Linked DNA regions of Homo sapiens. Changing the gene in region 1 together with any one later gene gives a genetic interaction. Each region holds a gene or a part of one and is shown in the gene's direction. Other genes may lie near its edges.

Region 1 (3,396 bases):
CGAGACTCTCTCAAAAACAAAACGTCAGTATGAAAATGCTTTCCTAGTACATTGATTCTAAGATACATTCCAATTTCAGAGATGCTAAAATGTGGAAGGGTACATGTCTTAGAACTAATGGGATACATCTATTTTGCATATTTGGATTTATTTGGACTAGTTACCCTTAGGTAAATCACTAGGCCATAAGGTGTTGTGTAGCAACAGAAGATAGCATATAGAATCTCTGAAGTCCCTTTTAGCACTAAGAGTCTAATTAATTGAAATTTCCAGCAGTAAGGCTGGTACATGGAGTTTTTGGAGGCAAATAGTATTTTTAGCTGCTTTAAAATTAATCTCTAGTATAAGACCCTGGCAGTTTCTAATGTAAATCACAACTCAGATATATGTAATTAACTCATTGTTAGTATCCCTTTTAATATTATTGCTGATTAATAAGCAAATGTAAATGTCTTTTTTAAAAAAAATCCAGGATGGATGCAACCTTGAAAGAACTGACAAGCTTAGTAAAAGAAGTCTACCCAGAAGCTAGAAAGAAGGGCACTCACTTCAATTTTGCAATCGTTTTTACAGATGTTAAAAGACCTGGCTATCGGTAGGTAACTTCTCATTTTTAAGTCCTGTAATCTCTTTGTTTTTAGTATGTTTTAACTGATACAGATAACTCCTTCAATGAATCTTGTTAGTGGGAGAATATGGGTTTATATTAATACGTGGTTTGGCTTAATAAAGTAGTTAAATTTTGGAAGTGTGTTATAAAATGATGGAGAAAATCCAGTGCCATATTCACTTTGTAGTACATACTGGGTTTCATTGATTTGGATCCATTAACAGTTGATTTTCTTTCTTACAGAGTTAAGGAGATTGGCAGCACCATGTCTGGCAGAAAGGGGACTGATGATTCCATGACCCTGCAGTCGCAGAAGTTCCAGATAGGAGATTACTTGGACATAGCAATTACCCCTCCAAATCGGGCACCACCTCCTTCAGGGCGCATGAGACCATATTAAATTCTATTTACTATTTGTTGAATTTATTTTTCCGTCAGTTATGTAAAATAAACATACTCTTCTTCCTCCCCTGATTATTGCCATTAAGCCTTTAAATTCTAAACAAATTATAATGCATCATCTATTTAGGAGTTAGATTTGGATGTGCTATTGTATGATTACGAATAGTCTGTATGTTTCAAGCCCTTCTGTAAAATATGAAGAAAAGTGCTCTTAGCATTCTGTGTAAAACTGTACTGTTAAATATATGTGTGTAATCAGCCTGAGTGTGAAAGTTAATGGAGGCCTGGGAACAGGGTTTATACTAAGTAGTGGAGGAGCGTATGGTTAAGCCCAAAGGGGCAGAACAAGAAAGCCACGGGATTGTATGAAATCAAACATGAGTTTGTGGTGTAGACTGCTGTATGCAGTTGGAAAGGACACGTGAGAGTGAGCTCAAGTGGCAGCAGAGGCAGTTTGGAATAAGCTGCGGCAAGTTGAAGAAGCTGTGTTGGACGAGATTGCCCCGCCTTGATCAGGGTACCATGACATAAAAGGTTAAAGAACAGGCAACACAATGAGCACTTAAGTTTTTAACATGTGGGGAATAGGGCATTTTAAAGGCTGGAACCAGTTCAGAGGAAACAAGGGTTTGGGTAGAGGTAGAAAGGTTTAATTAACCCTGGAGATCTGCAAATGGAGGGAGGGGTGAAGGAGGAATCTTAAGACCGAGGGAGAAGAGCCAAGGACAAGGTCAGGTTGAATGAGTAGGAGGTGTTCACACATCCTCTTGTGTGCTAGGTAGTGGCGTGCATCTGATCTGAGAGGCAGTAAAGCAGTGATGAAGACAGTGCAGCAGAACATTGAAGTCCTGATTGCAGCAGTGACTCTGCAACCTTGGATAAATTATTTCAATCTTTATTTTGTAAAACGGAGATAACGGCCTATAGGATTGTTAAGACTGAATATTTTAAAAGAGCTTAGAATGGTGCCTGACAAATGAGAAACAATAAATACTGATTATTGGCCATAAAGTGGTATTAAAACTGGATCTCTTTTCTTCCATGGCACTACTCTCATTTTGAAGTTTATGAACAGTACGACAGTGTATTGTAAATTCCCTTTAGTTTGTTACAGTAGCCAATTGAAAATGTATATCCCAAAATTTAAAAAAAAAAGTACCAGCAGCAATAAAATTGCACTAGTTTTATCTGGTACATACAAAAACAGCCATTTAAAATCTGATGATTCTGTGGAATTGGTGTCCCTGTTAGCAATGGCAGAGACCAGCCTGGAGCCTAGATCTGGTGCTTCTTCTGTGCTGTGGTTTACCCCAAACCTTTAGGTTGTTTATTCATTCAGATTAGATAGACTGGAGCCATAAAGTTAATTTGCACCTAGCTTTTTGGAGAATAGCCATGATTAACTGCTATTCGTGGTGGGGGTGGGGGGGAACCCTATGATTTACTATGCAGATGAAGAGGGTAGGAACTAAATAAAGGACTTTGTAAGCCAAAGTGGTTGGGCTGCTTTGTCAAATTCCACCCTTTGCTTGGTTCCAACATGGAATTTCTCCTTTAAAGATTTCAATATCCCATCAAAAGTACAGTTAGAGAATACCTAGTGAATTTATTGAATATAATGCTAAGAATCAAAAGACTTGTACTAGTTTACCTCTGGCTTTGGTAAGTGTGGCTTTGAGTAATAACTGAGCTGTTTCCCCGCATATAAAATAGAAATAAATAAGTAGTCATCATGACAGCATCTTGCTCAGTGCTTTAGTGTCTGCCCTGGTTGCCTCATTTGCTCCTAGGTATTTTGGAATTGACGTTTTCCCTTTGGAATATGTGTTACAGTACATGATATTGCCTATAATGTCTTTTTAGTTTTTCACGGTGTACAAAAACTGGGACGGTTATGCCCAGCTGATCATTGACTCAGGTAATGTTTTAGGTATCGGTTGTATGCATGTGAGGGGCAGGTGTGAATGTAGAAAGAAACATTATTAGGCTAGGTTTAAAATTCTCTAAAGTTGAACATAATAAGGAGCTGAACTTGATGCACCTCTTTCTTGTTCAATTAAACACATTTCAGACTTGTTTTTGTGAAATAGAAGGCAACACTCTAAATCAAGTTTGTAACTATGATTTAAGTGTTTACTTGTGCCAAACACAGATGGTTCCCAAGTTATGATAGTTCAACTTTAGATTTTTCAGCTTTGCAGTGGCGCATAAGCGATAAGCCATTCACTACGGTCCTCAGCTTATTATGGGGCTACATCCCAATAAACCAGCTGCCAACTGAACATCTTATAAGTAGAAAGGGCACTTCTGACTTAGGATATTTTCAACTCATGATGAGTTTATCCAGACATGACCCCCTAAGTAAGGAACATTGATACTGTGCT
Region 2 (3,656 bases), on another chromosome or scaffold:
CTGTATCCAGCTAACCCCGTAGAAAGTGGGGGTGCCAGTGTGCTGCACATTATTGCTCATTTTTTAATGGCACCTGCTATGCATGCTGCTTCCTGCAGTGCCTAACCAAGGCACGTGGGACTCATAGTTTTACAGAACTGAGAAATGGTAACAAGTATTAGATGGAGACCTCATACTCCCCTCAAATGTTTCTCATCAAGTACTTCTGGCAACAGGGGAAGAGTAGCTGATGATCTTTTCTTTTAAATACAAATGGCAGAAAAGTAAAACTGGCTCACAGAAATGTTGTTTGTGATTTTAACTGCAGTAGCAATGATTACTTTCATGTCAAATAAGCTTTTCAGTGGTTGAAGTTAAATATATGGATTTCTTAAAAGTTTAGATAGTGTTAATTTACCAAAACCAAATTCACTTAATCCATAGCCAGGCAATTATTTCCCCTTAGAGTAATTTAGTTCCCCTTGGAGTAATTCCATTTGGGTATGTCTGTCATGAATACTGCTTATCTGTGATTAGGAGCATCAGAAATGTAGGAAAGAAAGATTGAAGACACTAGGCAGTGGATTTGGGGAACCCTGAGCTACCAAATGGCAAAGCGGACAGATAGAAGCTTTCCTATTTGGAGTTAAGATTCTAGGCTTTCCTGATTATGGAAAAATAATCATATATACAGGTAAAATAATTATACATGAAAAAATGGTTAAAAATTAATGAAGATTTCATTAAGAACTTATGAAGTTGGGCTTTCCACCCCCCCCCCCCCCGCCCAACCCTTGCAGAAAAAGGCAACACAGACAGGGAAGGGAGAGGAAATGAAGCCTTAGGAATCCTGGGAACTGCTAGAGTGTCACAAAGGTTATGCATATCTAATTGATTTTGCCCTCAGAAGATATTTTGAACACAAGGAAACATCAACCACATTAAAAACCTATAAGAGGTTTTCTGTGGTGCATGAATACATGAAATCCAATGAAATGTTTAAAATTCCCTGCATTTTGCTCATTGAAACTCAGACTATTTCTCACTTCCAGAATTGATCAAAAAGTTCAAATCAACATTAGTTTGTACTTCTTGATTCTGAAAAAAAAATTCTCTTTCTAAAGGATTTATTTATTTTTGAGAAATGGGTTATTAAATAGCTACAGGGAGGTACATATCTTTAATAGTAGTTTTACCTGGATGGTTAATCCGGGAGTAGCATCTTGAAGTAGCAGTTGATCTACTAGTAATATAAGTATGAGAGCAATGTCACTCTTCAGTGCTACAGGGTAGGTTGCCTCAAAAATCCTTATGACAAGCTGCTTTCTTCTGGATATTTAAAACAGCAAATCAAGATTATTCAGCTTATGAAAATACAGGCAGGTGTAAATAAATGTTATTTCTCTGGAGGAAAACCTTCTTCCACTGGAGTAATAGTTCCCTAAACTACACGGAATAATTTCTCACTTAAGGCTGAGCCATGGTGCTGTTAATAGCACTGCCTCGCCTGGAATGTCTTCTGTTTCTGATCTCTTATTGCCAGTAGCTGTTTTAACCTATCAGAAACAGATCGGGTTATCATTAAATAGGCTTTTAACTTAGTTGTTTTAAATCTTGAAATACACTAAGAAAAAAAAGAGAAGAGAGTTTTTGCCCAAGTTTAGGCAACTTAAACCAACTGGCTTAGGGAAATAAATGAAGTAGTCTGCTGTTCAGGGAGGATGCACTATCATGATTGAAGGATGCTGTTCGACTTCACCCTACATTAGAAAGTTGTTTTATTCACTTCAAACATCATTTTAAACGTTGGCTTTGGCATGGGTGCTTTATTTTTAAACATTTTAGTGTTTAAACGATAAAGGAATCCTGCTCCCATGGGGGTTAGAGGTTTCACTGCAGAGACTTGAAAGGAGAAAAGCTAATTTTTTCTCACGTTCCCACACTTGTGACTTTTCATATTTTCTATTTACTACAGAAAGCCTCTGGTTGTTGAGGTTGAACATTGGGACTCCACTCAGGGCCTCCCTGAGCTCAAGACAATGAGGCGATGTGTCTGTCTTAGCCATTCACAGCACTTGAATCTATGTATGGCAGCTAATGAAGAAAAACACATTGGGGGCCAGGTTCATAGAAGGTGAATTCGACGTTTTGTGAGCGAAGCACACACCTATTGGTTTTGTGAAGGCTTTTCAAGGGATCCCCAATGTTTTATTATAATGCGACACTCAGGGTGGTTGCATTGCAAAGTACCTGGAAGGTTGCAGCTCCCTGAATTCAGCCAGTTAAAAGAGCCCTCTGAACGCAACCAGGGCCGGCCCTTGCCAGTGTTTGCTGGAAATTTGGCTGGGCCAACTGTAGAGTTTGCAAATGCCCGTGAATATTCCGAGGAGCAGGGTGACCACTCTGATACGCCTTGATACAGACCGCTTCTCTGCACTGGAGGGAGACTGCCAGGCGCTGCTGGCGCTGGAGCTCACCTCCCCACCCCCACATGGCCCCCAGCCCTTTTTTCACTTTTCCCGCGGCCTGGCTGGCGGAGATGCATTGTCTCCCAAAGCCAGCTTCAGAAATGCGGATCAAAGCCGGGCCTGGGAGCACCCCTTCTGCCCCCAGACACCCAGAGCCGTCTCTGAGCAATCCAGCATGTTCTGTTTGCTGGCGCGCTGACTGGGGCGCGCCGGGGCCGGGAGAACTCGGCGTGGACTTCCCCGCGCTGATGTAATGATGATGGATGCGGCGACGCGGCTGCAGACAGCGCTGCGCGGGCCCGGCGCGCCCGCTAATGAACCCACCGCGCCGCCGCCGCGGCCTGGGACCTCGGGCAGGGGACGCAGGCGCGGGCAAAAGTGGTGAAAGGCGTGAAAAACATCCCTTGCCACCGTCGGAGGAAACCAGAACCTGAAGGGAACTCGACAGGAAAGCGCAGAGAAAGAGCGAGCTTTCAAACAAAATTGGCCATACCCGTACAACCTGAGCAAAACAATTACCATAATCAATGGGGACTCGCCTTTGTAATGGTGAAAGTTTCTGTTTGGGTTTCCACTGGTCCCCCGCCCCTTGCAGGTCTAAGTGACGACTCTAAAGAGGACGACTTGAGGCGTCTGTGTGCAAGTGCTGTTTAATATGTAGGTCCCGGCAAGAATTCGCCAAGGTGGTAAAGGTTGCGGTTCTCTTGCTCGCTTTCTGTTCTCTTGCTTACTTTCAAATGCAGACGTGCACTACAGCGTCACCAGGTCAGTGGCTCCAGGAAGCTTTAAATGCCTTGTGTTGTAAGAGGTTGACGCAGGTTCAGATTTATAATTTAGAAAGAAAAGACCCACCTGCAGGCAGGTTGCAAATAGGAGACGGATTAGATTTAAAATAGGGTCTGGAATTAATTGTGCCCTGGGTTTAGGCCTCGGGGAAATTACAAAAGGTTCAGGGATAGTTGAGTGGGAAAAAGCCTTGACTGTTTGCTTTCAGGAAGGAATGTTTATCCCTCCTTTTACCTATGAAACTTCAAGCTTTAGGAAGGATATACCATTAGAGCAATTTTCCTTGCGTTGCTTTTTTTTTTTTTCTTCACCGAGCTCCTGGGACTCAAACATCAGCTACAAACATTTTTCCCCTTAAGCATGAAAAGTCAAGGGGCATGCCAGCAAATCTTGCATGTAATGTTTCAGTGGTGAAAGGGATTG
Region 3 (3,656 bases), on another chromosome or scaffold:
ATTGACTCTTTTTTTTTTTTAAAAGAGGACATAATGTCATGTGGCTAGTATAATTTTAAAAAATCATATATGGGGAAAAGTTATATATGCTCATTTAAAAAATTTATGCAGAAAAGAGAAAAGGAGCAAAAAAAACCAATTTCATCAAGTCAGCACTTGTTAAATCTATCATAGTTTCTTTTTATGTAATTATATGTGATAGAATTATTCATCTATCTTTTTCAGTAGTCTAAATAAAAGAAATATATAAAATAACTGTATGTTTGGAAGAAATCTAACTTGTGTTTTTTTTTTCTTTAAACAGTTTTTTTCCACTAACTGAAGGCAATTTGCATACCATTCAAAGTCTATGTCCATTTTTGTCAAAAGAAGAAAAGAAAGAATTTAGTGCTCAATGTATACCTGCTCTTTTGGGCTGGACTAAGAAAGATCTTTGCAGCACTAATGGTTAGTTGCTTGATAATAAATATTTCATTAATTTAATTATTGCTTGAGATGAAGAACTGTTTCTAATATATAAGACCACATCTAGCAGAGGTAAATTGAATTACAGCTGATTTGTTCTGAGATTATATGGATGAGTGTTGTTAGACAGTGGCTGTTACCATTTTACAGTACAAAAATGCTGGGCCTTAAGGGAAGACTTACGCCCAGAAATACCTTCTAACCATTTCTTTTCTATCTATAGCTTTTTAAAGCTGTGCCTCATTTCTCCCTAGCCAATCAATGATTGAACATATAAAGGCAAAAATAGCGTCTGTTGTATTTAAAACACTGCACTTTTCATTTGTTTATTAATTTAATAAACATTTATGAGCACCTGCTACATGGTAGTTCCTATTGTAGAGAAGACAAACATAAAGTTGTATTATGTGATAACCGATGTAGCAAAAAGATGTGCTATGTATAGAAGTGGCAGAAAGGAAGGAGTTTCCACTCTGCTTTGAGGGTGTTAGTGGCAATTTCACAAAGAGAAATATTTCTACTGGGTGTTGAAGGATAAATAGTTTTCCATATGGACATAGTTGGGGAAGGGCATTCCAGGTACACAAAAACATACAAGGGTACAGATTGTTCATTTTGGCTGGTATGTAAGATAGAAGGTTGGGGACAGAGGGTGTTAAGATACACCAGTGGATGGATTTTGAGGAATGGTAGAGATTCTAAAGAGTGAGTCCACATCAGAGTTTACCACATGTACTAGCTGCTATTGAGTGAATGAATGTATAAATTATGAAACAGTATGTTCTATTTTCCATTTGCTGTTTCCAGCTACTCTGTAGCTGTAGGGTTTTTTTTATTTGAATGATGAGTTTGCTGAATATGTCCTGCACTTAAGAAACCAAAACAAAAACAGCATAAGTCAGTTTAAATTACAGCATCATTCACTCTTTCTCCTCCCCCAAATTCTCTATTGTGTGCTAGGTGCTGGGTTTGGAGACAGGGTCTCTGCCCTTTGGAGCTTATAAGCTCATTTGTTGACTCTTAGATAAAAGTCATTATTAGAGTTCTTAACCTGAACACTTCTCAAGAAAGTCTTTTACTTCTCAAAGTGGACTTTTTTTTAATAGTAGCGATATAGTTCTTAAATATTTTTAATTTTCATTTTGAATTTTACTTTAGGAGGTTTTGGACATCTTGCCATTTTCAATTCTTGTCTGCAAACCAAAAGTATAGATGATGGAGAGCTATTACATGGAATATTAAAAATCATAATATCCTGGAAGAAAGAGCATGAAGATATTTTTCTTTTCAGTTGGTAGGTGATACTTTATACTATGTTTTTCCTTCAGTATACAATTCAGACAAAGATTACGTATCTGTGTCACAATTTTGTAGAGAAATTATGGTAGACATTTAAGTCAGTTATAAATAAGTATGTAAGATTTAAAGTAGCATACTTTCTAATTGAATGTCAATATAATCTTTTATTGTCTTTTGTTTTTATCTTTATCACAGTAATCTATCAGAAGCAAGTCCAGAGGTACTGGGTGTAAATATAGAAATAATCCGGTTTCTTTCCCTATTTCTGAAATACTGCTCATCCCCTTTGGCAGAGAGTGAGTGGGACTTCATCATGTGCTCCATGTTGGCTTGGTTGGAGGTAAATTAACCCGATATGTCATCACCTCTTGTGGGTTTTTGTACATACTTTTGCATCAGAACTATTTACTAATCTCATTCTTTAAGTGATGATTGTAATTGGTTCCTTTGTATAATTTAAAACACTTTATAGATGTTCTTCTTACCAGCTACTATTTGACAGAATAGTAAAATGATAGATTTTTAATGACTACCAGCATCATTCAGTGACCAAATCTCCTGTTATTAAAATGCCTTCTCCATTAGCTTATTGTAATATTTGCAGCACAGCCCTTTCAGGTTTTATCTGTTAATGACAATTATTTTGGTCTTTTTTGGTTATAATTAGATTATTTCTAAAACATACTGTGTGAATATTGTGAGAGTAATGCATTAAATAGTAGCAGATTCAGAGGGAATTAGTGTAATTTTTGACCCAAAGCAACCAGAGGTATATTACTTGTGGGCTCCAAGGCAGCAAGTCAGTCAGGGTTGGATTGGTCTGAATCTCTGCTTTGCCTGCTATTAGCTATGTGACTTAGAGTTTTAAACTTAAACTATTTGAGACTCAGTTTTCTTTCTTTCTTTCTTTCTTTTTTTTTAAATTTGAGATAGAATCTCGCTCTGTTGCTTAGGCTGGAGTGCAATGGTGCGATCTTGGCTCACTGCAACCTCCGCCTTCTGGGTTCAAGCAATTCTTGTGCCTCAGCCTCTCAAATAGCAGGATTACAGATGCCCACCAGCATGCACGACTAATTTTTATATTTTTGGTAGAGATGCGGTTTCACCATTTTGGCCAGGCTGGTCTCAAACTCCTGCCCTCATGTGATCCACTTGCCTCAGCCTCCCAAAGTGTTGGGATTACAGGCATGAGCCACTGTGCCTGGCCGATTTTCTTATTTTAAAATAATAACTTACAACTTGTAGGGCTACTGAGAAGATTATAAATGTGTATTTAATGTGTCTGACTTAGTGTTTCCTTCCATGGGTTAGAAATTAAAAAGGGTACTTGAGAATAAATTGTTTATTAATGATTCTATTCATGGTATTTAATTTTGAAGAAAAAAGTTATTTTGATGTAAAATTTTATGTTTCTCCTGAGATTACACACCTCAACTGCTTTTCGTTTTAAAATTCAAAGAAATGAAAGTGGGGCTTTTCTTTATATTGGCTTTATTTGTAGTGTTCTGGTAGAAGTCTGTTTACCTATTTCATTTTTATTGTTTTTTCAGACAACAAGTGAGAATCAGGCATTGTATTCTATTCCACTTGTGCAACTGTTTGCCTGTGTCAGCTGTGATTTGGCCTGTGACCTCAGTGCTTTCTTTGATTCCACAACTCTGGATACCATTGGCAATCTTCCTGTAAATCTAATCAGTGAATGGAAAGAATTTTTTTCCCAAGGCATCCACAGTTTGCTTTTACCTATTTTGGTGACTGTTACAGGCAAGTGAAAAAGGGAATAATAGTGAGATTGATTCATTGGAAATGACTTACTGAAAAATTCAAAAGCAAAAATTTTGATGTTTAAATCAAATAATACTAAATAGTAAAAGAAAAAGCCAGAAGAGAAA

Evidence for each region.
Region 2: of SAP18 (region 1) and GLI3, changing one enhances a phenotype caused by changing the other (phenotypic enhancement), as found in Homo sapiens cells (one study listed by BioGRID).
Region 3: changes in SAP18 (region 1) and LTN1 together harm fitness more than expected from each alone (negative genetic interaction), as found in Homo sapiens cells (one large-scale study listed by BioGRID).

Annotation. Positions count from the first base shown.
Region 1 is NC_000013.11:21,146,333-21,149,728, forward strand, and holds the end of SAP18 (histone deacetylase complex subunit SAP18), read left to right. Parts: intron 1-472; coding exon 473-595; intron 596-853; coding exon 854-1,010; 3' UTR 1,011-2,765; downstream 2,766-3,396. UniProt on the Homo sapiens protein: Component of the SIN3-repressing complex. Enhances the ability of SIN3-HDAC1-mediated transcriptional repression. When tethered to the promoter, it can direct the formation of a repressive complex to core histone proteins.
Region 2 is NC_000007.14:42,227,207-42,230,862, reverse strand, and holds part of GLI3 (transcriptional activator GLI3), read left to right. Parts: exon of another isoform or gene 1-3,212; intron 3,213-3,656. UniProt on the Homo sapiens protein: Has a dual function as a transcriptional activator and a repressor of the sonic hedgehog (Shh) pathway, and plays a role in limb development.
Region 3 is NC_000021.9:28,944,255-28,947,910, reverse strand, and holds part of LTN1 (E3 ubiquitin-protein ligase listerin), read left to right. Parts: intron 1-304; coding exon 305-447; intron 448-1,623; coding exon 1,624-1,759; intron 1,760-1,959; coding exon 1,960-2,104; intron 2,105-3,314; coding exon 3,315-3,528; intron 3,529-3,656.